4 linked regions of the Homo sapiens genome follow. The protein of the gene in region 1 interacts with the protein of each later gene in a pairwise test. Each region holds a gene or a part of one and is shown in the gene's direction. Other genes may lie near its edges. The genes, in order: YTHDF1, KRTAP8-1, OIP5 and MSX2.

Evidence for each region.
Region 2: the proteins of YTHDF1 (region 1) and KRTAP8-1 interact in binary tests that used the Homo sapiens proteins (3 or more experiments, as listed by UniProt).
Region 3: the proteins of YTHDF1 (region 1) and OIP5 interact in binary tests that used the Homo sapiens proteins (3 or more experiments, as listed by UniProt).
Region 4: the proteins of YTHDF1 (region 1) and MSX2 interact in binary tests that used the Homo sapiens proteins (3 or more experiments, as listed by UniProt).

Annotation. Positions count from the first base shown.
Region 1 is NC_000020.11:63,213,132-63,220,893, reverse strand, and holds the start of YTHDF1 (YTH domain-containing family protein 1), read left to right. Parts: upstream 1-4,762; 5' UTR 4,763-5,001; coding exon 5,002-5,028; intron 5,029-5,292; coding exon 5,293-5,317; intron 5,318-5,334; exon of another isoform or gene 5,335-5,446; intron 5,447-6,950; coding exon 6,951-7,030; intron 7,031-7,762.
Region 2 is NC_000021.9:30,812,197-30,818,185, reverse strand, and holds KRTAP8-1 (keratin-associated protein 8-1), read left to right. Parts: upstream 1-4,911; 5' UTR 4,912-4,965; coding exon 4,966-5,157; 3' UTR 5,158-5,489; downstream 5,490-5,989. UniProt on the Homo sapiens protein: In the hair cortex, hair keratin intermediate filaments are embedded in an interfilamentous matrix, consisting of hair keratin-associated proteins (KRTAP), which are essential for the formation of a rigid and resistant hair shaft through their extensive disulfide bond cross-linking with abundant cysteine residues of hair keratins.
Region 3 is NC_000015.10:41,308,762-41,315,613, reverse strand, and holds the end of OIP5 (protein Mis18-beta), read left to right. Parts: intron 1-2,259; coding exon 2,260-2,341; exon of another isoform or gene 2,342-3,716; intron 3,717-5,764; coding exon 5,765-5,860; 3' UTR 5,861-6,341; downstream 6,342-6,852. UniProt on the Homo sapiens protein: Required for recruitment of CENPA to centromeres and normal chromosome segregation during mitosis.
Region 4 is NC_000005.10:174,719,956-174,727,581, forward strand, and holds the start of MSX2 (homeobox protein MSX-2), read left to right. Parts: upstream 1-4,626; 5' UTR 4,627-4,704; coding exon 4,705-5,083; coding exon of another isoform or gene 5,084-5,109; exon of another isoform or gene 5,110-5,112; intron 5,113-7,626. UniProt on the Homo sapiens protein: Acts as a transcriptional regulator in bone development. Represses the ALPL promoter activity and antagonizes the stimulatory effect of DLX5 on ALPL expression during osteoblast differentiation. Probable morphogenetic role.

The DNA of each region.
Region 1 (7,762 bases):
CTCATTTGGTGAGTGCCTGCCTATCCTGAGTCTCTGGGCTCCTCTCTGTCCTGCCTCCATCACAGCTCAGATCTACAGTGACCCATCTACCTCTGCCTCCCATCTGGGTTGCAGGAGCAGCACCTGGCCTGTTCTGTCCCCGTGTGTGGAGAACAGCAGGTGCTCAGTGAAGCTAGATGAACCTTTGTAGGGCTATGGAAGGTCCCAGCACCAGGAGCTCTGCTGGGCAGGGGCCACCTCGTGCCCCCACGCCCCATACACATAATAAGTATGTGCTCAGTTCACACTTGTGGGGTGAATGGTCCAATGAGAAGCTTAGAGAGAGAAGGTTTGAAAACTGTAAAGTGCCGTGCATCATGGGAGGCACGTCAGCGCACTCCACGTCAGCGCACTCCACACACTCCACGTCAGCCCACTCCCCACACTCCACATCAGCGCACTCCACACACTCCTCCATGTCAGCCCACTCCACACACTCCACGCCAGCCCACTCCACACACTCCACGCCAGCCCACTCCACGTCAGCGCACTCCACACACTCGTCAGCGCACTCCACGTCAGCCCACTCCACACACTCCATGCCAGCCCACTCCATGTCAGCCCACTCCACACACTCATCAGCGCACTCCACGTCAGCGCACTCCACACACTCCACGTCAGCACACTCCATGTCAGTGCACTCCCAAGGCACAGGGAGGCAGGAGGAACCAAGAGAGCAGGAGCCAGTTTCATCAAGGACAAAGCAGCCCCGCCAGGGAGTACGGTGGGGAGCGGTTTTGGAAGGAGGCCTGCCGACTGGGGATGAGCCCGGGGTTGAGGTGAGGGAGGAGATGAGGACCTGAGACAGCATTCGTGGAGAGGGCAGCTGCGTGAGTGGCTGGTGTCCATCGAGACAGATGGGTATCTTCACTGAGAGCCCCCAGAGGCCAGCTGCAGGGTGAGCTGTGTCCAGCACTCAGGAGGGGTTTGGTTCAGCCAGGGATCATCTGAATTCAGGGCCCACAGCGTTTGGACCCTGCACCCAGCTCAGAAACCTCCTCTTGGCTGGGGGTTTTGGTACAGCCTCCTTGGGGGCCATCTGGCAACATCAGCACAATGGCCAGTGTAAGCGCCTTTGGCCCAGTGATTCCATGGGCAGGAGCCTCCTGCCAGGTGTCTTCGCACACGTGTGCATGTGTGTTGGGGCCAGGACACTCACTGGATGAGGCTGGAGCCCATGCCCTCCCTGGAGAGGGACGAGGTGGGTGGACGGCGGGTGTTGATACTCAGCAGCACTGTGGATCCCCAAAGTGCGGTTTCCCAACACGTGAGATGCAAGGGCAGATAGTGGAGACAGAGACTCATGCTTGCATGCACAGGCAGGCATCTGGAGGGCTCCCTCTCTGAGGGGTTTGGGGGTGGTGGTTTTTGCTTCCCACCTTATATCCTTTGAGTGCAAAGATAGCTTTTTAACCATGCGCCTGTGTGACTTTCAAATAAATAAAAACCCAAACCTTCCTAATGCTAGTCATGTTTAGACAATCCCATACCACTTGAGGGTGCTGCCAGGAGCGGGTACTGCTAGGAAGGGCTCTTGGATGAGCAACAGGTTCCCCGAGCAAGAAGGTTCCCGTCTGAAGGCAGACGGCCCACAGGGGATGGGCTCTTGTCTGTCATTGACGGCACAGGCTTAGAAATGGCAGGCTTTGTCTCAAGACCGCTGGGCCACCCAGAGGAGTGGCCAAAGCCCTCTGATCCGTTTCCATCCATGACATGAGGAGCTGCCTGCTCCCTGTGAGGGAGAGACAGTTGTCCCCTGACATTCGGTGCTGGGTGACCTCCCTTTTCCTGGCCGAGAGCTGGGCTGGGGTGTGAACCTGGGCAGGCTGGGCAGTGGACGTGGCCCTCCAAGGTTACAGGCAGCTCAACTCCTGGTTTTCTGTGACACCCTCCCAGGTCCTCAGGCCTGGCCAAGATAAAGGCTTTCCCCCCAGAGCTGGCCTGGGGACCTCAGCACCCCCTGCTGGTGCCACACCCCCTGCATTCAATTCACTTTAGGGCCCCCTGTTCCCGCCAACCAGACCTGTCCTGCCCCTGGGCAGCCCCCAGTCTCCTTCCATGTCAGGGTCAGCATGGAGCCTTCTGGAGTTCACAGCAAAAGCCTGGGTGGGTCCGGGCAGTGGCTGTGGGATCCTGCCAGCCTCTTCCCTGGCCAGTGGGGCTAGGCTGGCATGGTGGTGCCTCCTCAGGCCTCACTGTGGGGGCCTCTCCTTCCATCTACATTTGTGAGTAGAACCTACTCAGCCCCAGGAGTCACCCTCCAAAATCTCTCCATAGGCATCACTGTGAGGCCTCCCCAGTGATCTCTGTAGTGAGCTGAAGAGTGTACCCCCAAAACTCATGTCCACCTGGTACCTGCGTGACTTTATTTAGAAATAGGTTCTTTGCAGATATAATCACAAGACGATGAGGTTATCCTGGATTAGGGTGGGCTCTAAATCCAGATGAGTGTCCTTATAAGAAGAGACACAGGCACAGAGGAAAAGGCCATGAGGTGACGGAGGCGAGGAGGAAAGACCAGGAAGGGCTGCGGCCTCCACCGGAGGCTGGAGGAGGCTAGGATCCTCCCCGAGGGCCCTGGAAGGAGCTTCTGTCTCCACTTCAGCCCAGCAATACTGATCTGAGACTTCTGGCCTCCAGAACTGGGAGAGAATAAATTGCCGTTATTTTAAGCCCCCCAGTTCCGGGTACTTTGTTGAGATAGCTCCAGGAAACTGAAACACCTCCAGGGTCCTGCATTGCCGGCACTCAGCCATCTAAGAAGGCCCCTAAGCTCGGAGTGGCCACTTCCCGCAGGGCCAGTGCTGCCTCCTGTGACTGGCTGGGCATTTGTGGGTGAAGGCAGCAGGTAACAGCCAGTGTTGACAGAGCCCTGGCCTGACGCCAAGGGCTGCATACCCAGTTTCTTCCACACACTCATCCTGTGAAAGGGGAGTAATTAACCCACCACGGAGGAGGAAAGTAGGCCTGAGGCTGAAGGCCCTGTAACTGGCTGTGAGGCTCTGAACTCCAGTGGTGACCACTGCACCGTCCTGGCCCAGGGATGGGAGCTGGGTGAGAAGACAGACAGGGGCTCCAAGAGTCCGAGTGTCTACTCTGACCACCCAGACACCCCCTTGCTGCAGTCTTGGCCGCCAAACAGTTCAGTGTCCTGGGAAGCAGGCACTCAGGGCCTGCCCAGGATGCGCAGGCCTTATCACACAGAAGCAGGTGGCAGGGTGCCCCCAGGGACCCCACTGTCCCTACAATCCCCACACATCTTCTCCATGTGGGCCACCATCCTGGAAACGTGCTGTTCATTTTCGGATGTACCCCAAATGCACAGATTTCATCCTGGCCTGAGATGTCTGCCCATGGCCCAAACACATCAAAGTCCCAGGGGATCCAGATTCATCCTCAGGGCACCAGACATCCCCCAGCTCTGTTCCAGGGAAACAAGCCCAGCCCGCTTTCCCCAGCTTTAGGCGAGGCAGGGCTCCAGGGAGACCTGGAGCAACTTGGAGCAGCAGTCCTCTCTGTGGCTGACCGGCCTGCTGGGGGCAGTTTCCACCTCCTCCTGCAGCAGTGTGAGAGGCTGTCTGCTACCCCACTGATGCGGATGTCCAGGCTTGGAGCCGTCTTGGGACTCCATTGCCGTCCCTGCTGTCACTGTTCACCCTGCTTAGCGCATCTGCCCGGGCCCACTTTGTGGAAAACACTCATTTGACGTCAACCTGCCTGACACCCCATTCCAGGTCTTTCTCCTTTAGCAGGACCCAGATCCAGGCCACGTGAAGATGTTACAGCTGCCAGAGCTGGAAAGAAAAATATCAACCTGGAAGCCTCTGTAGGGAGTTAGCCACAAGGGTGGCAGGATTGGATACTGGCTGCAGGGAGCGAAATTCAACACCTTGACCAGAAGGGCGTCCAGGTTGGGGATGCTGAGGGGTTAGGAACTGAGAACTGGGCTCTCTTTGCACAGTTGCTGCTAAGAAGGGGCTGTCCATCCTCGAACAAAGATGACAAGTCCCCTGGCCCGGCCTAGGCTGGGGCACAGAGCACTGCTTTTCCTCCTGGTGATGAAATCGGGGTCAAGAATCTAACATGAGAACTTGGTTATAAGCCGGCGAGCCTCTCGCAGGTCCAGGGGTGCATCCACACAACAGCTGACCTCCGGGACCGGGCCCAGGGCTCCGCTGCGGCTGAAGGCCAGGGCCGCAAAGCGAACAAAGCCCGCAGGTCCCGCGGCAAGGGCCGAGGCGCGCGACCTGGAACACGCGGGGGCTCGGAGCTCTGGGCGGGCAGGTGTTTGCGCGCGGGGGAAGGGCAGACCGACCCCGGACAGACCCGTAGCCCAGCTGTCGGACCAGAACAGCGTTTAGTCTTCGGACCTTGGGGAAAACTACAGAGGCCTCAGTGCCGGTAGCGCGTCGGGGGTGCGGCTGTGGCCGGGGTGTGTGTGGGCGGCTGTACACCTGGCAGCAGCCCGCCAGCCCCTTCCCGCCAGGCCCCGCGGCGCCTCCGGACACGCCCCACGTGACTTCCCCGGCTCAGGGCTTCCCCGCCCAGCCGGCTGCGGTCCCCGCCCCGCCGCACGAGACTGGGACCTGAGAGCGAAATCCATCCCGTAAGACGGGAGCGCGCAGGCGCGAAGTGTGGCGGCCCGGCGCGGCGCTCCCGGCCTGCCCCGCGTGCACGCTGACGCCGCGCAGTCTCGTCCCCTGCCGCCGCCGTCGCCGCTGCTGTCGCCGCCGCCGCCGCCATTGGAGTCGACGCCTCCTCAGTGCGTCCGCGTCCCGGGCTCACCGCCGCTGCCGCCTCGCCAGGGGCCCGCGCGCCCAGCAGCCGCCGCCGCCGCCCGGCCGGCGCCCGGGGAATTGGCGGCGGGGCCCGGGGCCGCGCGAGCTAGGGTGACAGGCCCGGCCTCTAGGGGAGGCCCGAGCCGGCGGGCGCCCCGGCCCCGCGTCTAGTTGTTCATGAAGCATGTCGGCCACCAGCGTGGACACCCAGGTAGCGGGGCCGGGTTACAGGGGCCGCGGCCGGGGCCGAGGCGCGGGGTCTGGGTTGAGGTCCTGGGGCTGGAACGCAGAGCCCGGGGTCGCGGAGGCCGGGCCCAGGCGGGACCGGGGTCTCGGGGCCGGGGTCGCACGTGACCGCGCGTCGGGGCCGGCGGAGCTCGCGGCCCGTTGGAGACCAGTTCTCTGGTGAATAACTTTGTGTTTCCCTCTTCCCCCGGGTTGTGTGTACCCCACGTCCCGGCCTGCGGCGGTGCAGAGAACAAAAGGACAAGATAATAAAGGTGAGCGGAGTCCCGGGACGGCCGGCGCGGGCTGGAGTGGAGGAGGACGGGGAAGGAACGGTCCAGGAAGCTGCGTCTGGAACCGGAAACTTTCTCTCTTCCGCCAGCTTCAGGGAGATAAAACTTGAGGTTGTGCGACGATTCTGGGAGATTTGACAGGTCGAAGACAGGGGCTTCTCAAGAAGTGAATAAATGATTGCTCAGAGTAGTTTGGGCCCGTCTCTCCCCACCGCATGATCATGGATTTGCTTTGGGGAAGGGGAGGTAGGAGAGCCGGGTGGACATGGCCGCAGGGGTTGAGCGACTTGCCTTTTTCCGCCCAGCAGGGGCTGCTCTAGGAGAGGGGCAGTCCAAGGTTCTGCAGGCTAAGCTCCACATCCCCGGTAGTTGCAGCCCGTTTTCCAAGTCTGTTAGCATCTCCTGTGACATTATGGCTTGGGATAAACCCTCAGAGCGCACTCATGTGAAAACTGTTAAGTGACACTTCACGTTTACTTGGAACACTTTTTTAGCCAGTTTGTGTGTCAGCTCAGGTGTAACCAAATACGGTTCATCGTGTTTTAAGATTGGAAAAGGCCCAGCACTTTATTTACCTTTGCTTGCTTTTTCTGGCTGAGCATAATAACAGTGGGAAGGTAAGTGGTGTAAAAGGAAAACCAGTCTTGGGGCACCCAAATCACTGAGCCAAAGGGAGAAAGCTACGCTGAGAACTGCTGAGGGCAAACCTGCCTCCCATTCTATTCCTGAAAAAGATAGCTTCTAAGACAAAAAAAGTTACATACTTCCCCCACAGTTTGCCCACAAGGAAATTCCTGGTGGACAAAGGACAGAACTCAGAGTCATTCCTGCTCACTGAGATAAATGCTTATCTGATTGCTTCCTTTGGAAAGGCTAATCAGAAACTCGAAAGAATGCAGCCGTTTGTCTCTTATCTACCTATGACCTGGAAGCCCCCTCCCTGCTTCAAGTTGTCCCGCCTCTCCGGACCAAACCAATGTACATCTTACATTGATGGTTCTCATGTCTCCCTAAAATGTATAAAACTAAGCTGTCCCCCGACTACCTTGGGCACATGTTGTCAAGACCTCCTGAGGTTGTATCATGGGTGTGTCCTTAACCTTGGCAAAATAAATTTTCTAAATTAACTGAGACCTGTCTCAGATATTTGGGGTTCACTGTGGAGAGTCAGATAATAGCTCCCAACAGTCCTTCAGTTGCAGCCCCTTCCCTCCTAAGTTTTCTTCCCTCCGTTCTCCATACGTTTGGGCATACATTCTGCATTTGGGCTTTTGGAGGCTCCACTTCTTTTTGCCACACATAAGTCTTCTTAGACCATGTCAGTTTTCACCCTGGTTATGTGTTCCTTGCATTATGTGTTAACACTTGATTTGGTTAATCTCACCAAATTACGATTAAGCCTTTATTTAAAATTTATCCTAAATTATTGAAAGTTTCCCGTCCCCCTTCTAATTAGTTGTATAAACATCAGTTCTATACTGGTTGTACTCCTTTTAAAATTAAAGCATAATTTCTGCTAGAAATAGATGGAAATAGACTTTGCTAACTTTGCCTTCCAAGCTTAAAAGTAATCTTTTAAAATTTGAGGGTAATATTTTGCAACTTTTTGTTCTAGTACAAAATGGTTCGTTACATCAGAAGGATACAGTTCATGACAATGACTTTGAGCCCTACCTTACTGGACAGTCAAATCAGGTGAGTTTATTTTGTTAGCATATATTTGTTTTTAAGTTGGTTTTAATTGTTTTGTACCTTTACTGTCATTTCTGATTTTTAAATTATCCTAAACAACAAAGCAGCAGACTATAAAGTATTAGGAATGATAGACTGCTCATGAAGATGTGACTCCTGTTAACCTTGGGCATCAGTGGGGTGAAAATGATTTTCCCTGTGGAGGAGGCGGCATCCCACTGGGGCTGGGATGCAAACAGGTCTAGTTGGCTCTAGTGTTTGTGGGTCAGTGGTGTGTCTTGCCTTTGACGCAGTGGAGGTGTGTGTGTGTTTCTGAAGCTTCCTGGTTATTCTTAGCTCTGGATGATTGGAATTGTGGTCTGGGGAGGCAGCTAAGAGCTGGGCTGTGGAGCGACTGTGGAGCCAGAGGCCGCCTGGGTTTCAGTCCTTTTTTTGAGACAGCGTCTCACTCTTGCCACCCAGGCTGGAGCGCAATGGCGTGATCTCAGCCTGCTGCAGCCTCTGCCTCCCGGGTTCAAGCATTCCTCCTGCCTCAGCCTCGGGAGTAGCTGGAATTGCAGGCACCCACTACCACGTCTAGCTAATTTTTGTATTTTTAGTAGAGACGGGGTTTCACCATGTTGGCCAGGCTGGTCTCAAACTCCTGACCTCAGGTGATCCACCCGCCTCGGCCTCCCAGAGTGCTGGGATTATAGGCGTGAGGCACCGCGCCCAGCCTGGTTTCAATTTTAACTC
Region 2 (5,989 bases), on another chromosome or scaffold:
GTTTTTCAAAGTGATGGCAGCTGGAAGCTCATTAGTTTGTCTTAGTAGGAATGTGTAATAAGATGAGAAAAAGCACTCTCCATAGTCGCATGCCTAATTGACCAAATTCCAATGAGAGAGTGTTGAATTGTCATATTGACTCATCAGTGATTTTTGATGGGAGAATCATACAATGTTTAGGGTGGCAAGTCCCAGGAAGTCAACTTGTCCCATTTTTCAGTCGGGTCACGCGAGGCCCGGAAAAATGATTTGCCTCAATCCTCACAGCAAGTGAGTAGCCAAGTTAGGTTTAGAATATTCTTTCATTAATTCATTCAACTGAAACTTATGGAAAACCTATATTACGCCCAGTAGTGAGTGAGGCAGTGAGGAATCAAGGCTGATTAAAAATACTATCTTGCTCTCCTGGAAATAAGCATGTTAATGAGGCAGACAGATACCCATCACACAAGTGAAGGTTATATAGGAACTACGATTAAGTCCTACAGATACGAGGAAGAGGTTGGCCTACTGTTATGCTACAGATGGGCTCCAGCTAATCAGGAATGGCAGAAAGGCCTCCCAAAGGAAGTGATTGAGCTGGCATGTGAAGGTTGCATGGGAGTTGATCAGAAGGAGAGGAAGGAAGAGAATTCCTCACAGAACAAACGGCATGTGTCAAAGCTTAAGAGTGAGAGGAGCATGCGAAGTTTGAAGAACTAAAAGACAGCAAAACTTAACGAAGAGAGAGTTGAGAACTTTTAGGTCAGTTTAAAGATTAAAAAATATTATCCTAAAAACAATAGGAGCAATTGAAACACTTTTTTTTCTTGTTTTATTTCTAAGACTGTTACTGATTTATTCATTTGTTATGTTGAGGTACATGCCTTCTATACCTAATTTGTTGAGAATTTTTATCATGAAGGATTGTTGAATTTTGTCAAATTCTTTCTCTGCATCGATTGAGATGAACAAATAATTTTTATCCTTCATCCTATTCATGTGTAAAGTATATTACACTGATTAATTTTTGTATGCTGAACCACTCTTGCTTATCAGAGGTAAATCTACTTGATCATGTGTATGATCTTTTTAATGTGCTTTTAAATTTGGTTTGCTAGTATTTTTGCATCTATGGTCATTAGGGATATTGTCCTATCATTTTATTTTCTCATAGTGTCCTTGTCTGACTGGTATTAGAGTAATGCTGGCCTCATAAAATGAGTTTGAAAGTGTTTCTTCCTCTTTAATTGCTTGAAGGACTTTGAGAAAGATTAGTATTAGCTCTTCTTAAATGTTTTATAGAATTCAATGGTGAAGCAATCTGGCTCTGGATTTTTCTTTGTTGGAAGATATTTTATTACTGATTCAATCTCATTATTTGTTATTGGTCTGTTAAGATTTCCTATTCATGATGTATTCTTGGTAGGTGGCACGTTTCTAGGAATTTGTCCATTTATTGGAGGTTATTGAATTATTTTGGCATATAATTGTTCACAGTAGTCTCTTATGATCTTTTATATTTTTGGAGTATGTTATAATATCTCTTCTTTTATTTCTGATTTTATTTGTCTTTTCCCTTGTTTTATTAGTCTAGCTAAAGGTTTGTCAATTTTGTTTATCTTTTAAAAAACCAACTCTTAGTTTTGTTGCTCTTTTCTGTTTTTCAGATTATATTTCAGTTATTTCTGCTTTGATCTTTATTCCTTTTTTCTTGGTAACTTTGGACTTAGTTTGTTCTTTTTCTTCTAGTTCCTTCAAATATAAAATTATGTTGTTTAGTTGAAATTCTAATTTTTCTTAATGTAGAGTTTATTGCTATAAACTTCTGTCTTAGAATTTTTGCTGCATTCCAAAATTTTGGTTTTTTTTTTCTGTTTTGTGTGTGTGTGTGTGTGTGTGTGTGTGTGTGTGTGTGTGTGTGTGTGGAGATATTTTTCATTCCTCATTTGACCCACTGGCTGTTCAGGAAATGTTTAAGTTCCTCATATTTGTGAATTTTCCAGTTTTCCTCCTGTTATTGATTTCTAGTTTCATACAATTATAGTTGAAAAAGATGCTTGATATGATTTCATTCTTCTTACATTTGTTAAGACTTATTTTGTGGCCTAACGTGTGATATACACTGGAGAATGTTCTGTGTGTGCTTGAGAAGAATGTGTATTCTGTTGCTGTTGGATGGACTATCTGTACACGTCTGTTAGGTCCATTTGGTCTAAGTTCAAGTACAATGTGTCATTATTGGTTTTCTTTTTGGATTACCCATTCATTGTTGAAAATGGGGTATTGAAGCTCTGTACTATAATTATATTTCTATCTATTTCTTTTTTCAGGTCTATTAATATTTGCTTTATATATTTAGGAGTTTAATTTTTTTGTGATTTTTTGAGCATCTCAACAAATACTTTTGTACTTAATTTTATATTTATTACATTGTATACTTTTTAAGAAAAAGGGCTTTCAGCATTGTATACTTTCAGGCTTTATGAAAACCTTGCTCTTTCTTTGATAAGCCTATTATCAGAATAAAGCTTTCATAGGCTCAATATAGGATTAACTTCGCTATTAATTTTTAAATGACTTGTTGATAAATGATATGTTTCCCTAAAATTTTCTTCTGTTAGAATTTTCTGTAGACTTTCTAGAGAAAATCCAAGCCATTCTCTGTAAATAGGGCTTAAGTTTTAAAAAAGACAACATATTTTAATTACTATTCATGTTCAGAGCTAGGTTTTGTGCTGCAGAAGGCAAAGCTAGCATCTTGTCAGATTGGGTAGGCGAATGGGAGAATTCTTTTAAATAGAGCAACATAATTGACCTTTGGCAATATTAATTCAAAAATTTTAAATTATCCATTATACAATGCTATTTTTTGTCTAATTTTTCTTTTTTCCCTAACATTACCAGCTTTTCTATCATGAAACACAGCAATGTGATGCCAGTAGAAATAGTATGTAAATCATTCTATGATTTTTAGGGAATGATCTGTGGTTGAATACCTTTATGTTTTGGGAATAAATCTAATTTCAATTCCCTGAACTTGTTTAGCTATAAGCCACATATCGTGTTTGAATTTTAATTACTGAATCCCCATAGGCAGCCATCCAGGTTTGCTCACGAAGCAGGGTACTGTAGGTGTTTTCATTCTCCAGAATGTGATTATTACGCATTGCATATCTGTATCAAAACATCTTATGTACTCTATAAATATATAAACCTACCATGCACTCACAAAAACTAAAAATAAAAAAATTTAGGCCAGGCGCGGTGGCCCACGCCTGTAATCCCAGCTCTTTGGGAGGCCGAGATGTGCAGATCACTTGAGGTCAGGAGTTCGAGACCAGCCTGGCCAACATGCTGAAACCCTGTCTCTACTAAAAATACAAAAATTAGCCTGGCGCAGTGGCATGCACCTGTAATCCCAGCTACTCGGGAGGCTGAGGCAGGAGACTCGCTTGAACCAAGGAGGTGGAGGTTGCAGTGAGTCCAGATTGCACCACTGCACTCCAGCCTGGGCAATAAAGCAAGACTCTGCCTCAAAAAAAAATTATATATATATCTATATTTAAAAAAAATGCCTCTGCTGTAATTAGTCTACTGCTGGCTAGAACACTGGCATGGTTTTGAATTTTCCAAGTGTCTCATCTTGTTCTTGGATTCAGCCTTTGATTCCTAGCTGCTGATAGCAGGGAGCAAAGTTACCTCTGGGTTATGAAGTAAAATCTGGGAGAGCTCATGTGTAATACATATCTGTTTTGTGGCCTTCTAGAATGATTCCTATTATCTCTGTGCCTATTTCTGTTCCATATGCCCTCTTTGGTATTTGTTCTGTAAGTTCTCTACTAAGTGCCACTGTAAGAAATCTTAATGCAGGTGTCTGAGAATAATATATCAGGTCTTACATGATCCAAGATAGTTTTGATCAGCCTTATCCCTCCTTTAACTCATGCTTGAGAACTGACTCTCTGTTTAGAAAGGAATAACATTCCTTCTTTATCCTGGGGTGCATGATCATTGTAAAAGTGAAATAACTGATTTCATGTTGTCATCTGGCCCTTTATAATATCATCACATTTGTCAGACAATCTAGTTTCATTAGATCTAAGAGAAAAAAAATTTTAAATCTTACAATAAATTTTTTAATTCATTTTTCTGTGTTTACCTTATTAGTTTCAATGTTTAGTTTGAAATATGTTTCAGGCCAAAAAATTAAATTTGTTTGACAATTCAGTACAAGGATTAATCCAAATACTCCGTTTTAAAATCTCAATACTATTAATTCAAGTAGTCTTCTAGAAATGTGATGTTAGGTATAGTTTAGGAGGGGACTATGATTAAGATTACACTTTTAACCAGTTTCCCAAACACGGTAGCTGTAGTAGAGGAAAAAAAAAAGACTCTTTCTCATGAGTTCCATTGCACTTGTCTTTCATATTCCAAAAAAGAGAATCCTTGAAGCAGGTGAATACTAAGACATACTTTAATTTTGAGAATTTTGAGATAGACTCACTATCCATTTGTTATTTTATATATTAATGTATTTAACACATATTTATTGAATTTCAACTGTGTGTTGTGGAAATTCAGAGAGCAAGAGGACTGCATAACAGCTAACAACCTCAGAATATTTCTTGATATTATATACCTGCTTACAGAGTTATATGGGGTCTATAAGACAGAGTGCTTTGAAGTCCTGGCAATAATTTTTTTTTTTTTAGGAAGGGAAATAATTTGTTTAAAGGCATCTTCTCCCTGTATTGCATCACACGAGAGCTTTCTTAAGCCACTGTAAAGACATCATAAGCAAGAGCAAAACAAGTTAATGAGCTTTTTAGAATGTAAATTGGTGTCAAGAATGAAAATGAGGGCTTTGTGTTTTTCACCACCCACCAGAGCTGGGATATATAAAGAAGGTTCTGAGACTAGGAATCCATCCCACTGAGGAAACGCACTCTGTTGCTACCTAAGCCCTCCACTCCCGACACCATGCTCTGCGACAACTTCCCCGGGGCTGTCTTCCCAGGATGCTACTGGGGCAGCTATGGCTACCCGCTGGGATATAGCGTTGGCTGTGGCTATGGCAGCACCTACTCTCCAGTGGGCTATGGCTTCGGCTATGGCTACAACGGCTGTGGGGCTTTCGGCTACAGGAGATACTCGCCATTTGCTCTCTACTGATTGGCTGAAATCCCCGAGGTGTAGCATCTTCTCTCCCTTGAAGGCTGAGCCCCACATCTCCAGGTTCCCCCCGTATCCACTCCTTCAGTCCTCATTTGCTCATCAACCTCAGAGACACTGCTTTCCAACTTACCTCGAGTCCCAGGGGAGGAAAATGAAAAAGCAGACGCTTCCTCAAGCTGCCTCCCCTGGCTGATGTTCTCTGGGACATTTTCGGAAATTTGACCTCCCACTTGTCATGAGCTACTTTTGAATTTTCCATGACACTCATGACTTGTGATGAAGTCATGGATATGTCTATCAAAATCTCAATAAATTTGTCTCAGCTGGTATAATATTCTCATGCTAGAGCGAAGTTTCCTTTCTTGGTGTGTGCATATTTTCTGTTACATGGGTGGTGGGGGGGAAGTGAATTTATTTTTCTCATGTGGGCATTAGGAACAGCCAGAAAGCAAAGAATTACTGATCCTGTGTGATAAGCAGGTAAGAGGGTGGGTTGCAGGTAATGACTTAAAAGGTTGCCTGTTTGAACCTTCTTTAAATTTTATGATGCCCACCTCCAACCCAATGGAGCACCATTTATTGCTCGGGGTCCCCTTCTCATCTCACTACTTCTGCTCCTCCGCAAGAAAACCCAACACAGGAGGAACTTTTTCAGTCACTTCCATGTTAGTCCAAATGAAATCCACTGTGTTCCCTTTCCCAGGGACTAAGGATTATAGACTAAAGTGCCATGCCCCCTAATGAAGGATGCTGGAGCATTGAGTAATAGAGAAGCCACAGACATCCTTTGGAAATCTGAGAGTTTTTAAGGTGAAGGGATAAATCCCCT
Region 3 (6,852 bases), on another chromosome or scaffold:
AGGACATTCTTTTTGATTAAGTAGAAACTTTGGCCTTTTCCTCTTGGATTCGGGATGGCTGCTGCAATTACAGTCATTACATCTATTGATGATAGCATCCTAAACATGAAGGAAAAGGATATGGAGAGTATGGGAACACAAGAAAATTCCCCCTTTTCATCAGCATAAATTTTTTTTTTTTTTTTGAGACAGAGTCTTGCTCTGTCACCCAAGTTGGAACACAGTGGTGTGATCTCAGCTCATTGCAACCTCCGCCTCCCAGGTTCAAGTGATTCTCCTGCCTTGCCTCCCAAGCAGATGGGACCACAGGTGCGCTCCACCACAGCCTGCTAATTTTTGTATTTTTATTAGAAATGGGGTTTTACCATGTTTGCCAGGCTGGTCTCAAACTCCTGACCTCAGGTGATCCCCCCGCCTCGGCCTCCCAAAGTGCTGGGATTACACGCATAAGCCACTGCGCCCCGCCAGCATAAATTTTCTTAATCTTTTTTTTATTCTTTTTTTTTTTTTTTTTGAGACAGGGTCTCACTGTCACACAGGCTGGAGCGATCATGGTTCACTGCAGCCTCAACCTTTTGGGTTCAGGTGATCCTCCCAACTCAGCCTCCCAAGTAGCTGGGACTACAGGCATGCCACCACATCTGGCTAATTTTTGTATTTTTTGTAGAGATGGGGTTTCGCTGGCCAGGCATGTTGGCTCACAGCTGTAATCCCAGCACTTTGGGAGGCTGAGGCAGGCGGATCACTTGAGGTCAGGAATTCAAGACCAGCCTGTCCAATATGGTGAAACCCTGTCTCTGCTAAAAATACAAAAATTAGCTGGGCATGATGGTGGGCACCTGTAATCCCAACTGCTTGGGAGGCTGAGGCAGAAGAATTGCTTGAACCTGGAAGGCGGAGGTTGCAGTGAGCCGAGATCTCGCCATTGCACTTCAGCCTGGGTGACAGAGTAAGACTCTGTCTCAAAAAAAAAAAAAAGAGATGGAGTTTCGCTATGTTGCCCAGGCTGGTCTCAAATTTCTGATGTCAAGCCATCTGCCTGCCTCAGCCTCCCAAAGTGCTGGGATTATAGGTGTGAGCCAGCACACCCATCCCATTTTCTTACCCTTGTTGGCCAGAACTATGTCACATGATCACCTCATCTGAGAAAGCAAATATGTAACAGTAGGCTCATGGCAAAAATCTGGATTCTGTTGGCAATAAAGAAGTGAGGAAGGCTGGGCTCGGCTCACGCCTATAATCCCAGCACTTTGGGAGGCCCAGGCAGGGGGATCACCTGAGGTCAGGAGTTCGAGACCAGCCTCGCCAACATGGTGAAACCCCATCTCTACTAAAAATACAAAAATTAGCTGGGCGTGGTGGCGCAAGCCTGTAATCCCAGCTACTCGGGAGGCTGCGGCAGGAGAATCGCTTGAACCCAGGAGGCAGAGGTTGCAGTGAGCTGAGATTGTACCACTGCACTCTAGTCTGGGCAACAGAGCGAGACTCCATCTCAAAAAAAAAAAGTGAGGAACAGCTACTGGGAATAGGTGACCAACACTATGTCTCATACTGGGATTACTTTCTTTCAAACTGTGCTACAGGATCCTACTGATGAAGTGTAAAGCTTATAATCATCGTAATTATTCATATGAGCCTGGTTTTTGTCTTTAATTTACCCTGAGATAATTTTGTCTCTGGTGGGATGCGGCAGAGATCCTCTCCAATTTGTTTATTTTTGAATTTGTTTTTCCAAGAAAATGCAGTCATCCTTCAGTATCTGTGGTTCCAGGACCTCACCAGATACCAAAATCCATGGACACTCAAGTTTCTGATATTAAGTGGTGTAATATTTGCATATTACTTTTGGATATCCTCCTTTTTAAAGTATAAAAGTATATATTTTATACTTTAAAATAATCTCCAGATTACTTATGACAGCTAACGTAATGTAAATGCTATGTACATTACAAATTTACATAGGAAATTTACAAAGTTGTTGTAATGTTAAGGGAATGATGACAAGAAAAAGAGTGTACCTGTTCAGTACAGACACAATCCAGTTTTTTTTTCCTGAATATTTTTAGTCTGTGGTTGTTTGAATCCATGGATGCTATACCCATGGATATGGTGGGCCAACTGTAACATCATGAGTCTTGAAATGAAAATCATTAAGAAGCCAGGCTTTTTTTGACACATACTTTCTTTAGAAGGTAAGTTTGGTTCTTTTATAATCTTAACCATGGTATGACACTAATATTTTTCTTTTTTCCTATCTAGCTATCTCTTAAAAACAAAAGCCATAGTAAATGCATCAGAGATGGATATTCAAAATGTTCCTCTATCAGAAAAGATTGCAGAGGTAAAATTTCATGATGGTTGTATGCTTTTTTAAAATACAGACAACTCTTGATAACTTCTACCAATGAACTTGGGGATGATGAAATGGCATGATGCTCAATAATCCTTTTTACTTGATTTGACCTTCCCTATTGAATTTGTAATGAAAAACAAAATACTAAAACCACACTGTAAGGTATAGTTCAGGAAGAAAGGAAAAGCTGCTCAACTGCTGCACTCCTGCATTCTCCTTTGTGCTGGGAATGGATATCATCATCTTGCCATAGAGGTGTCTTCTTTGCAAATACCTTGTAATTGCTCAACTGTCTCAGACATAAGAGTGATGAAACAGTTATTAAGAATTCCTGGCCGGGCGTGGTGGCTCACGCCTGTAATCCCAGCACTTTGGTAGGCCAAGGCGAGCAGAACATGAGGTCAGGAGATGGAGACCATCCTGGCTAACACAGTGAAACCCCATCTCTATTACAAATACAAAAAATTAGCCGGGCGTGGTGGCACGTGCCTGTAGTCCCAGCTACTCGGGAGGCAGAGGCAGGAGAATTGCTTGAACTGGGAGGTGGAGGTTGCAGTGAGCTGAGATTGCGCCACTGCATTCCAGCCTGGGCAACAGAGCAAGACTCTGTCTCAAAAAAAAAAAAAAAAAAAATTTAGCCGGTCATGGTGGTGGGCGCCTGTAATCCCAGCTACTTAGGAGACTGAGGCAGGAGAATCGCTTGAACCCAGGTGGTGGAGGTTGCAGTGAGCCGAGACTGCGCCACTGCACTCCAGCCTGGGCAACAGAGCGAGACTGCGTCTCAAAAAAAAATAATTCTTGCCTGGGCGTGGTGGCTCACGCCTGTAATCCCAGCACTTTGGGAGGCTGAGGCGGATGGATAACCCGAGATCAGTAGTTCGAGACCAGCCTGACCAACATGGAGAAACCCTGTCTCTACTAAAAATACAAAATTAGCCGGGCGTGGTGGCACATGCCTGTAATCCCAGCTACTTGGGAGGTTGAGACAGGAGAAGCACTTGAACCTGCGAGATAGAGGTTGTTGTGAGGCAAGATCATGCCATTGCACTCTAGCCTGAGCAACAAGAGTGAAAATCTGTCTCAAAAAAAAAAAAAAGAAAAAAAGAAGGCTGGGCATGGTGGCTTATGCCTGTAATCCCAGCACTTTGGGAGGCTGAGGCAGGCAGATCACCTCAGGTCGGGAGTTTGAGACCAGCCTGACCAACATGGAGAAATCCCATCTCTACTAAAAATACAAAATTAGCCGGGCGTGTTGGCGCATGCCTATAATCCCAGCTTTTCGGGAGGCTGAGGCAGGAGAATCGCTTGAACCTGGGAGGCAGAGGTTGCAGTGAGCCGAGAGCTTGCCATTGAGAGCGAAACTCTGTGTGGAAAAAAAAAAAAAGAATTCTTATTGGCTGGGTGCGGTGGCTCACACCTGTAATCCCAGCACTTTGAGAAGCCGAGGTGGGTGGATCATGAGGTCAGGAGTTCAGCCTGGCCAAGATGGTGAAACCCCGTCTCTACTAAAACTAGAAAAATTAGCCAGGCGCAGTGGCAGGCGCCTATAATCCCAGCCCCAGCTACTCAGGAGGCTGAAGCAGGAGAATCGCTTGGACCTGGATGGCAGAGGTTGCAGTGAGCCAAGATCACGCCATTGCATTCTAGCCTGGGTGACAGTGAGAATCTATTTCAAAAATAATAATAATAATAATTGGTATGGGAAATGACTTTGGAATGGCAGTATGAGGAGTTCCATGGATAGGATCCAGGAAGAATATTATAAAGGAAACAACCATCTTAAGTCTGTGGAAATTTTCTTCAAGGTATATGGCAAATACAGAAACATTTATTTGTTTATTTATTTTTGAGACAAAGTCTCACTCTGCCTCCCAGGCTGGAATGCAGTGGCACAGTCTTGGGTCACTGCAACCCCCTCCTCCCGGGTTCAAGCGATTCTCCCACATGGAGAATCCTTGTCTCTACTAAAAATACTAAAAAGCCTCCTGAGTACCTGGGACTACAGGCGCGCACTACCGTGCCCAGATAATTTTTGTATTTTTAGTAGAGACGGGGTTTTACCATCTCTGCTAAAAATGATGGCCAGGCTGTTCTCGAACTTCCGAGCTCAGGTGACCCACCCGCCTCGGCCTACCAAACTGCTGGGATTACAGGTGTGAGTGCCAGGTTCAAGTGCTTCTGCTTCAGCCTCCCCAGTAGCTGGGAACCCAGTTGCCCTTGCCCCCAGCTTGCTTGTAGGGTGGAAATCCTATGCTGGGAGGGGCGAATGGAGATTATCAGAAGCCACTGCTCTTGCCCTGCTGAGTAACAACACTAAATTTCATGCTAAATATAGCTGTAAGAACTCTTAAAAATTACCTAATTGCAACAGTTATCTGTTCTAAACCTAATAACCAGAGTTAACTTTGCAGACCATTAGTAGAATGTTAAAGTCAGAGAGGCATTTGTTACTGTTAACAAAGTGTTAAAAGAAAAGCTAAATTCTTGCCACTGGAAAAGGAGGAGAAGCCTGTCTCCACAAAGCACTGTGACCAGACTTTATTCATCTTCACAGTAGCAGTGCTGCTCAGCAATGTTTTGTCTTTTTTCACACGAAACTTTACATCTGAGGATCTTTTTTTTTTTTTTTTTTGAGACGGAGTCTCGCTCTGTCACCCAGGCTGGAATGCAGTGGCACGATCTTGGCTCACTGCAAGCTCTGCCTCCTGGGTTCACTCATTCTCTTGCCTCAGCCTCCTGAGTAGCTGGGACTACAGGCGCCCGCCACCGTGCCCAGCTAATTTTGTTTTTGTATTTTTAGTAGAGATGGGGTTTCACCGTGTTAGCCAGGATGGTCTTGATCTCCTGACCTCGTGATCTGCCCAACTTAGCCTCCCAAAGTGCTGGGGTTAGAGGCGTGAGCCACTGCGCCTGGCCACATCTGAAGATCTTACTGTGCGCTACGTTGTTGTATAAAGTTCTTCCAGAATTAGAAGAAATTTATTCCTCAAATGCATTTAGACATTGCCAGCTCCCAATTACTAGATATAAACTAGCTTAAATTTGAAATGGTGTTTGTGACCAGCAAATTGACAGTTAAGCTTAAAATGCCCAGATATCCATCTTGGTGTGGTGGCTCATGTCTGTAATTCCAGCACTTTGGGAGGATCACTGACTGCCAGGAGTTCAACACCAGCCTGGGCAACAAAGCAAGACCCCCATCTCTACAAAGAAAATTTAAAACACATGACTGTAGTCCTAGCTAATCAGGAGGCTGAAGTGGGAGGATCACTTGAGAGCAGGAGCTTGAGGCTGCAGTGAACTATGAATGTGCCACTGTACTCCAGCTCAGGCAACAGAGTGAGACCCTGTCTCTTAAAATAAGTAAAAATAAAAAAAGATGCCCTGATATCTATATATTTCTCTTCCTAGCTGAAAGAGAAGATAGTGCTAACGCACAATCGCTTAAAATCACTAATGAAGATTCTGAGTGAAGTGACTCCTGACCAGTCCAAGCCAGAAAACTGATCCTGTACCAAAGCTTGAGTGTCAGGTTCAGGCTTTATTGCTGTCTTCAACAACAGGTGCTGCTTAGTCATTTCTTGAAAAAGATTGGCTTCAAGAATGGAGGGGAAATGCAGTTTCTATTTACCTTTAGGCTGATTTTCCAAATTATTTGTGAAGCTGTTTTTAGAAGATGAGAGACTAAGGATTCTTCTCTTTTATAGCTATTTGCCTTAAGAACTTACTTTAGATTCTTATTGAATTCATAATACTTATCTCTGAAAATGTCTTTGACTGTAAATTTAGGAATTAAGATGCAGAGTCCCATGTGTCCTCTGATCTAAAGTTGCATGGTTGGTCTGAAAATAGAGTTGGGCTTAATGTTGACTTCTATTACTCCTGCATGGAGCAGTTGTTATGAATACTAATACATCACTTTTTAACTTCTGTAAAATACAGATCATAATATTCTATAGGTAATGTTTAATAAATTGCCTGAATAATATACAATTTGTCTTTTTCAGTTGTAAACTGAGGTTAACAGAGAAATAATGAAAGCAATGATAAAACGAAACAGTTACCAAAGTACTATTTTCTATAATTTTGTTTTATGTAGCACTTTGAGTAACTTATCAAAATATTAATTTAATATATATTTGTAAAGTGTTAGACTAGGTGCTGGGGATAAAAGGTAAGCAAAAATAGACACACTATCCTTAGAATTTATAATCTAGTCAGAGAGGGACATTCAAATAATCACATAAAGATACATAAAATTACAGGCCTGGCGCAGTGGCTCACATCTATAATTCCAGATTTTCGGAGGCCGAGGCAGTGGATCACTTGAGGTCAGGAGTTCAAGACCAGCCTCGCCAACGTGGTGAAACCTCGTCTCTACTAAAAATACAAAAATTAGCCAGGCATGGTGGTGCGCACCTGTAATCCCAGCTACTCAGGAACCTGAGGCAGAAGAATTGCTTGAACCCAGCAGGTAGAGGCTGCAGTCAGCCGAGATC
Region 4 (7,626 bases), on another chromosome or scaffold:
AAGCCAGTTCAGCTCTAGATCTTGAAGCCAGTTTAGCTCTAGGAGATCCGAAGCAGAGCTGTCTCCTGGGTCAGTGCCTGCTTCCAGCACACTCAGCGCTACTCGGTATTTTGTAAGGCTTGTCACCTAGTTCTCACCAGCAACCCTGTGGATGGGCATTAGCATGCCTATTTTCTGAAAGGGGAAACCAAGACCCAGCAAGGTGACGGCGGAAAACGGTGAGAAGTAGGGCCTGGATTTGAATATAGAACTACAGAAGGCCGACCCACAGCTCCTCCCCTCACACCTGCTGCCTCCAGAACTAGATGTCCCCATGAACTCGCCATCCCCTCTCCAGGCTGTGGGACCTGCAAGGAGATGCAGCTTCTTTTACCTCTACCTCCCCCGCCCCCATCCTTGTGATGGTCTTCTTCCAGGGACACCGTGTTGAATTAGGTTTTACCACAGCTGAAGTCAGGCCAACCTCTCCCCTCTCTGCGCCTGGACGACTTCATCTGTGGAATGGGGAGAAAGCTCAGGCTTTAGGGGGCCTTCAGTAATCTGCATCGTGCTTTTGGCAAAAGCTCCTTCTCTCCAGCCCCGGCTCAAACCCGGGCTCGGTCCTGACTCCGGACCTTAGGGGGCGGGAACAGGAGAACAGGAAAGAACAAGCTTGGGCTTGCAGAGCTTCGCAAGCAAGACGTTTGTACCCCCAAAACCTCCAGCTGTGACCCTGAATATCTATCTACCCGACTTCCTGGGCTGTGTAACTCGGAAAGTGATCTCTCTAGACACCAGAGGACCGAACCTTCCCCATTCTCACTCTGCAACAAGCCAGTAAGAAAAATGAGCTCAGAGACGAGTAGCCTTTTGCCCGAAGTCACACAGCCAATGTTTTGGGGGGTGGGTGAGCGGTGTTGTGGAATTCCTGGCGGATGTTGGCGCCCGCGGGTCTGCCTGCTTCTGATACCCGGGCTCGGTAGAATAGGCCGCTAACGAGCTCCCATTAGGAGGAATTGTCACTCCTCTGGGAGCGAGCTTGTCCCATTAGGGCGAATTGTCATTCCTCCTGGAGCGAGGTTGTCCCGGCTCCGCGCAGGCTGAGTGCTGGGGCCGAGAGCAATTAACGCGGCTCCGGCGCGGGCAGCCGCCTCTGCCCCGGGCAGCGGGGGCGGGGCAGGGCGGGGGCGGGGCGCCCGGCGCGGCTGGAGCCGGTCACCCGGCGCAGCCCCTTCCCCCGGAGCCCGCCTTTCATCTCCCCGCGCCTGGCGCCTGCCCGAAGCCCAGGCCCGTCTACAGCCCCCTTCGCTGCCCCTCCCCCGCCCCCTTCTAGCCGCTGGGGTTACAAACTAGCCTTCGGCCCTCGGGGTTACAAACGCTGCGTTCTGCGCGCAGTGCTCCACAGTTTGCAAGGAGTGTTTTCTCCTTGGGACTCGCAGCGCGCGTACGCGGTTGCTTCAAGAAGGGGCCTGGCGGGTGTAACGCGCCCCGGGGAGCGCGGGAAGGTGCAGGGTTGAGGATCTACGCTCAGAGGCCTCAGCCGCGCGGGAGGGATTCCTGTGTCTCCCACTTCTACCTGCGCGACCTTGGGCAGAGTATTAGCGCTTCCCAGCCTTAGGCATTCATCTGTGAAATGGGAAAAATAATCTGCTAGCAGCGGTGTGTTGGAAGAAACCAATAAGATCCTGGATAGGTCCAGGCACTAAAGCATCCTTCAGAGTTGATGCTTCCTGGTGGCTGAGTTCCTATTGGAACCCCGCTTTTTTGCTAGCAAATATTGCAGCTACGCATACATCCCTGGGAACTAACATTTACTGAGTGCCTTCTACGTGACAAAGCCAGTTCTCCGCTAGATCACTGTCCCCAAACCTGGACACTTCTCAGACCGAGCCAAATTCTCAGCCCCGGAAATTTTACAAAGAACCTACCGTAAGCTCTGGGATGCACCTTATCTTTCGATCCTTGGCAGGGAGAAAGCATTCGATACATTGTGATTGCTTTTGATATACAATAATGTTTTAACCTGGACCTCCTATGCCTTCTAGTTACTTTAGGTAGCCTATTGAATTTAATCACCACCAGAGTCATCTCAGGTAAGGATTATTATCTCTCATTTTGGAGATAAAAAAAAAAACGCTGGCTGGAGGAAGCAATTTAGAGTGCCCAAGGTCACTCCGCCAGGAAAAGGTGAATAAAACGTTCTGAAAACGCAGCCAAAGTTGGATAAAATGCAGACTTGGGGCTTTCCATAAAGGGCTAGCGTTGTGTTGCGGTTCCAGCCCTTTCCCAGCAGAAGTGAGCCCCTTTCCCGATTTGTCTCCACCTCAGCAGAGAGCTGGGGAGGGAACTGGCAAAGACCCCAGGAGCAGGCTGGTTCCTCTCTCAGCATCTTTCCTATTCATGGTCAGAGCTTGGCACTCTGATTTTGAACACCGGTAATTTTTTTATCTCTGTTTTCCTATTCCTGGCTTTGTAATTTATTTGTCTCTGCCTGGACTTCAGTATTCCAGAGTAGTAAAGGGGACCTGGCTTTTCCTTTCCCAGAGAAGTTCATTAAAATAAAGGAGTTCCAGTGGTATTGATTTTTGTTTCGAATTTCTCAGGAATGAGCCTGTGTGCCTTATAGCTGACAGATATTAACAAGGAGTTTTCAGGAATAATTATAAAACATTGGCTGCGTTTAGCCTAACTGAAAGTTGAACCCTTTTGTACACTTTGGCAGCTGAGGGCTAAACGAATTTCAGATTTGCTTCCAAAATATATAGCCTGCACCTTGCCTTGTACATCTAGAAGGTACAGAAGTTAATCTGGATTTACCTGTACTGTATTTGAGATGCATATCAAATCAACTATCACCAGGTATGACTCAAGGGGAAAACGCATACATCTCCAGGTAGTTTTCATAGTTTTTTTTTTTTTAACTTTTTTGAGCCTCCAGTTGGTTAAGAAGAAATGTGCATATTCTTTATAGTGAGAGAGAAACTCAGAAGTTTTAGAAGACTGTGTTTAGGACTTACTTACTCTTTTACTTTTTCAGGACCATCTTTAATCAAACTGAATTAACTGGCCTGTGCAGACTGTCTTTATCCTCTAAGATTCAGGTAATACTTTTTTCCAGTTCTCTCCGGCCAGCACAGTTTCACTTCAGGGAAAGGTTTGGGGTGAAGCAAACAGTGCCTCAGAGAGGTACATTGGGAAGGGTACATAAGGGTCTGTAGGTCTAGGGGTCAAGTTTCTAATACTCCTGAACTGGGAGGTAGCCTCCAAGCCTTGGTCATTTAAATAATTAAAAACAATGTCTCTCCCTTCCAATGCTCTAGGGAATGTTTAGCAAGCATCTGCTGTAGGCGAGGTCCTGAACTGGGTGACTTCCTATTTACCTCGTCAGTCGCAGGATAATCGTTCAGATATAGGAAAAGACAGCCGCAGCCTGAAAAAAGTCTTTTGAAGCTAACCTTCTAGGTCAGGCATTTTGAGGACCAGCGGAGAGATCCGAGGCCTCTAATCCTCGAAGCTCGCTCTCCCCTTCCCCAGGCTGAGACAGTCATCACTGAGGCTTTGGAAAGGAATTACCGAGGGTATAATTTGGGGTGGGGTGGAGACATCTATGTTTTTATAAAAAACCAGGTGCCATGAATAAAAATGTGCTTCCCAAAATGATATGTAGGCCTGGGGTGTGCAAACTTGGAAGCCGGTATTTCTGAGACTTGCAAACGAGAGGGAGGCACTAGATATTGGCGACTTTTCCTCCTCCCCCCCACCCCCATTACCCTCCGAGGCAAACACTGGCATTCAAACACGCACGACAAACACAGGCTCAAACAAACTCATGAATGCACACTTGCACTGTCTTGAGAAAAAGGTCGGATCCGGATCGCGCTCAGAAAGGAGGTTCAGGAGACAAGTACAGAGATTTCAACTTTCTAAAAGTGCGCTGGATTTGCTTTCTAGTGAGAGAGATGGGGACAACTGATTTAAATTCTTCACTCCGAACCATTTGGGAGAGAGGCACTCCTGACCACTTCTCGGGCTCCTTCCGGCCCCTCTTTTCCAGGGGAAAGAGTTGTAATAATAACAGTGGGCGCTTTTGAGCGCTGGCTAGTGGCGAGTTACTCTTCTAAGTGCATACATTTCTTTCACAGGGATACTGGCCTGTGAGTTTCAGCACCGACTTTCTGGAACTGTAAAGTAAGCCAATTTTGACGCATAGTAGGGGCTTCGTAAATGTTTCTGCAATGCTGTTTGCGAATCTTGAACTTATTCTGGCGGTAGAGGGAGAGTGGGATGGGCGCAGGGTCCCTTTTAAAGAAGGGTCAAAAGAGAGAAGAAATGGGACTCGGCGAACTTCCGCTTTAAATAATCGCTCTTAATTAGGTCTCGGGCTTTTCAGTTTCGGCGTGATTATAACCCTTCAGGGATCGCCTAATAACAACTCTGCTGACTGCTCCTGTAATTAACTCCTAATTTATTTCAAACAGGAAAAAAAAAAAAAAAAAAAAAAAGGAGGGGGGGCAGCCCCTTCGGGAAGAGCCAATCAGGGGCGAGCGTCTCTGGCGTCAGCGCCAGGCCCGGCGCGGATTGGCGGCGCGCGTCTCCCACTTCCCCTCGGAGGAAAGGCTCAGCTCCCAGCGCGCCCCTCCCGTCTCCGCAGCAAAAAAGTTTGAGTCGCCGCTGCCGGGTTGCCAGCGGAGTCGCGCGTCGGGAGCTACGTAGGGCAGAGAAGTCATGGCTTCTCCGTCCAAAGGCAATGACTTGTTTTCGCCCGACGAGGAGGGCCCAGCAGTGGTGGCCGGACCAGGCCCGGGGCCTGGGGGCGCCGAGGGGGCCGCGGAGGAGCGCCGCGTCAAGGTCTCCAGCCTGCCCTTCAGCGTGGAGGCGCTCATGTCCGACAAGAAGCCGCCCAAGGAGGCGTCCCCGCTGCCGGCCGAAAGCGCCTCGGCCGGGGCCACCCTGCGGCCACTGCTGCTGTCGGGGCACGGCGCTCGGGAAGCGCACAGCCCCGGGCCGCTGGTGAAGCCCTTCGAGACCGCCTCGGTCAAGTCGGAAAATTCAGAAGATGGAGCGGCGTGGATGCAGGAACCCGGCCGATATTCGCCGCCGCCAAGTGAGTGCGCGCCGGGGCAGGAGTAGGAGGTAGCGCGGGGTACTGGAGGGAGCGGGGGGCGGGTGTTCCAGGGCTGAGGGTACCGAGACCCTTCTGCGTGCGCTACACTCCCGGGAAAGCAAGCCCAGGGCCTCTGGACTCCTGGGTGCCCGGGGCGTTCGGCGCGCCCAGTGCGCCGTCCGCATCCAAGACACCCTCTGGGTAATAACCGCGCTGTGTGTGTCTGAGACTCCCTCGACATACAGATTGTTTTTTCAAGAGCGAACCCCAGCTGGGTTTACGGGGTCGCTCGGTGGTCCGTTTCTACAGCCCTCGGCCCTGCGCTCTGGCCACTTGGCTTGTTTTTGTTTCACTGTTCCCCGGAGTCTCTGCCTGGGGAGTGAAGGAGTTGGATCCATGTTCAGTGAGCACTTGGATGTACCAGGAACGAGACAGGTTCAAAACTCAACCCTGAGAGTTGTGCCCCCATTTTAAAGATGAGCTAACTGGGCTTAGCCAGACATTGAGGAGAAACCATTTTCTTTCGTGAGTCCCGCGGGTGTCGAAGCCGGATCCCACGAAGGGATGGTGGCACCAGGGATGGTGGCATCAGAGTCTGGTGCGGGGAGGAAATGTCTCTCTGTGGTCTCCGCAGCCAGCACCTCCCCGGCAAGGTTCTGAGCTTCGCCGGGAGCGGGCTGGGGCCAGAAGCGCACGGGCTCTTCTTGGCTCACAGTAATAATTAACCGCATTCCAGCAGGGCTTGAGAGTTTGCAGAGTGATGTTCACTAGCTCACCAGATCGAGATCCTCACTAGAACCCCCAAGTGTAGACACTGGACTTGTGACTACCCTATTTTTCAGACGTGGACGCTGAGGCTTTTAAAGAAGACGGCCTTTGCTTGTCCCAGGTTACCAACAACCACTGATTGGCCAGGGGCACCTGTTGCCCACGCCCTGCTCCTCTGTTTGATATGCCCTGACCACTTTTGCGTCCTCTCCCCAGAGAGACTAGGTAGAGATCCGCACCTGCACCCCACTTGAGAATTGAGGCTGCAGAGAATTCTCCGCTTCAGCATCCATTTTTGGTCCCTGAGTCCTTTTACAATTTGGAGACGTCATCCTTTACAGCCTCTTTTACTTTTATCTCTTGGCTTTTATGGTTTCTCTACCCCCTAATTTCCCACCACGCCATCCCCTACCTGTAGGAAAGGTGAGGGTGGGGGCTGTGGAGGGACTTTCTCCAAAGCTGAGAGAGATCCTTTCACTATTTACATCATTCAGCCCTCAAGACTAGACGCACTGTATTTTGTTAACAAAACAAGGCCATATACCCAGGCGTCAGTGGCTGTCCCCTCTGGCAGTCTCTCTCCACCCTGTTAGAAACTCTGAAAGATTCAAAGGGCGAGGAGATTAAGGGACTCAAAGAATTTAAACTCAAGTTTGGATAGTGCTTTATAGCACTTTTCACCGTATTATCTTATCTCCTCTGTAGGGCAGCAGCCGGCCTCTTAACAGATGAGGACATTTCAGCAAAGTTCAGAGAGGAATCGGCAGTTTGGGCCTGACCAAAAAAAAAAAAAAAAAAAAGCTGGGGACCATTTAATGATCACCTACCAGGTGGCAGACAGACAGGGCTCTGGGTACTCTTAAAATTTTAGTACTGTGGACCACATTGAGGGATTAGTGTTACTTACCCACTTTATCGACAGTGAGGTAGAGGCTCAGAAAATTAAAAGACTTAATTTGTTTAACAAATATTGAGTACATAGCCTACGCCTATGCCCAGCCAATGATACAGGCCTTAAATGGAGTAGTGTCCAGAGGTTAGGAATCCTGCCATCCTTTAGGCCTGTGGGTCTGGAAAGGCAATGACTACTACCCCTCTAAACATCTCTGCCCTGTGCTCAAGCTTCCCTGCTCTGGGTAAGGCAACCTCGGGCCCAGGCTGTGACCTTCCCATGAAAAGAACCAGAAATTCTGAGAACCGAGTTTATAACCTGCACATTCTGCACATGTATCCCGGAACTTAAAGTAAAAAAAAACAAAAAAACAAAAAAAAAACACCATGAAGAATTGTTGGTGCTTTGGGCCTGGAGGTGGCAGCGGGAACCCTGTGGTCAGAGTAGTGGGTCCTGAGAATGCCAGGCGACGGAGCCTGGGGCGAGAGGGAGCTACCCGCCCGGGCCTGATTTTGTTATTTGGAGGAAGTAGGATAAACGCTGTTTTGCCTTATATAATCGCATCCTTCCTCTGGCTGGTTTAAAATTAGGTGGGGGTGGAGGGATGGGGAGTGTTGCATTGGGAGGAAGCCTCATAGCTTCATGGTTTTGATACACATGTGCGATCCCGGTCACCTGGATTTCATAATTCAAATGTAACCCGAAGGACCAGCTGGAATTACCCTGCCCAGGCGCACAGTGCTTCAAAACCCCACGTAGAGCCAGGAGCAAGAGTATATACACGCTAGGAACTTGGTATCTGAGCTGAGACACCTGAGTCCTCCTGAGGGCCCGGCCTAGTTTAGAAAGGGCGAGAATTTTGCAGGTCTCTTGAGAGTCTCTG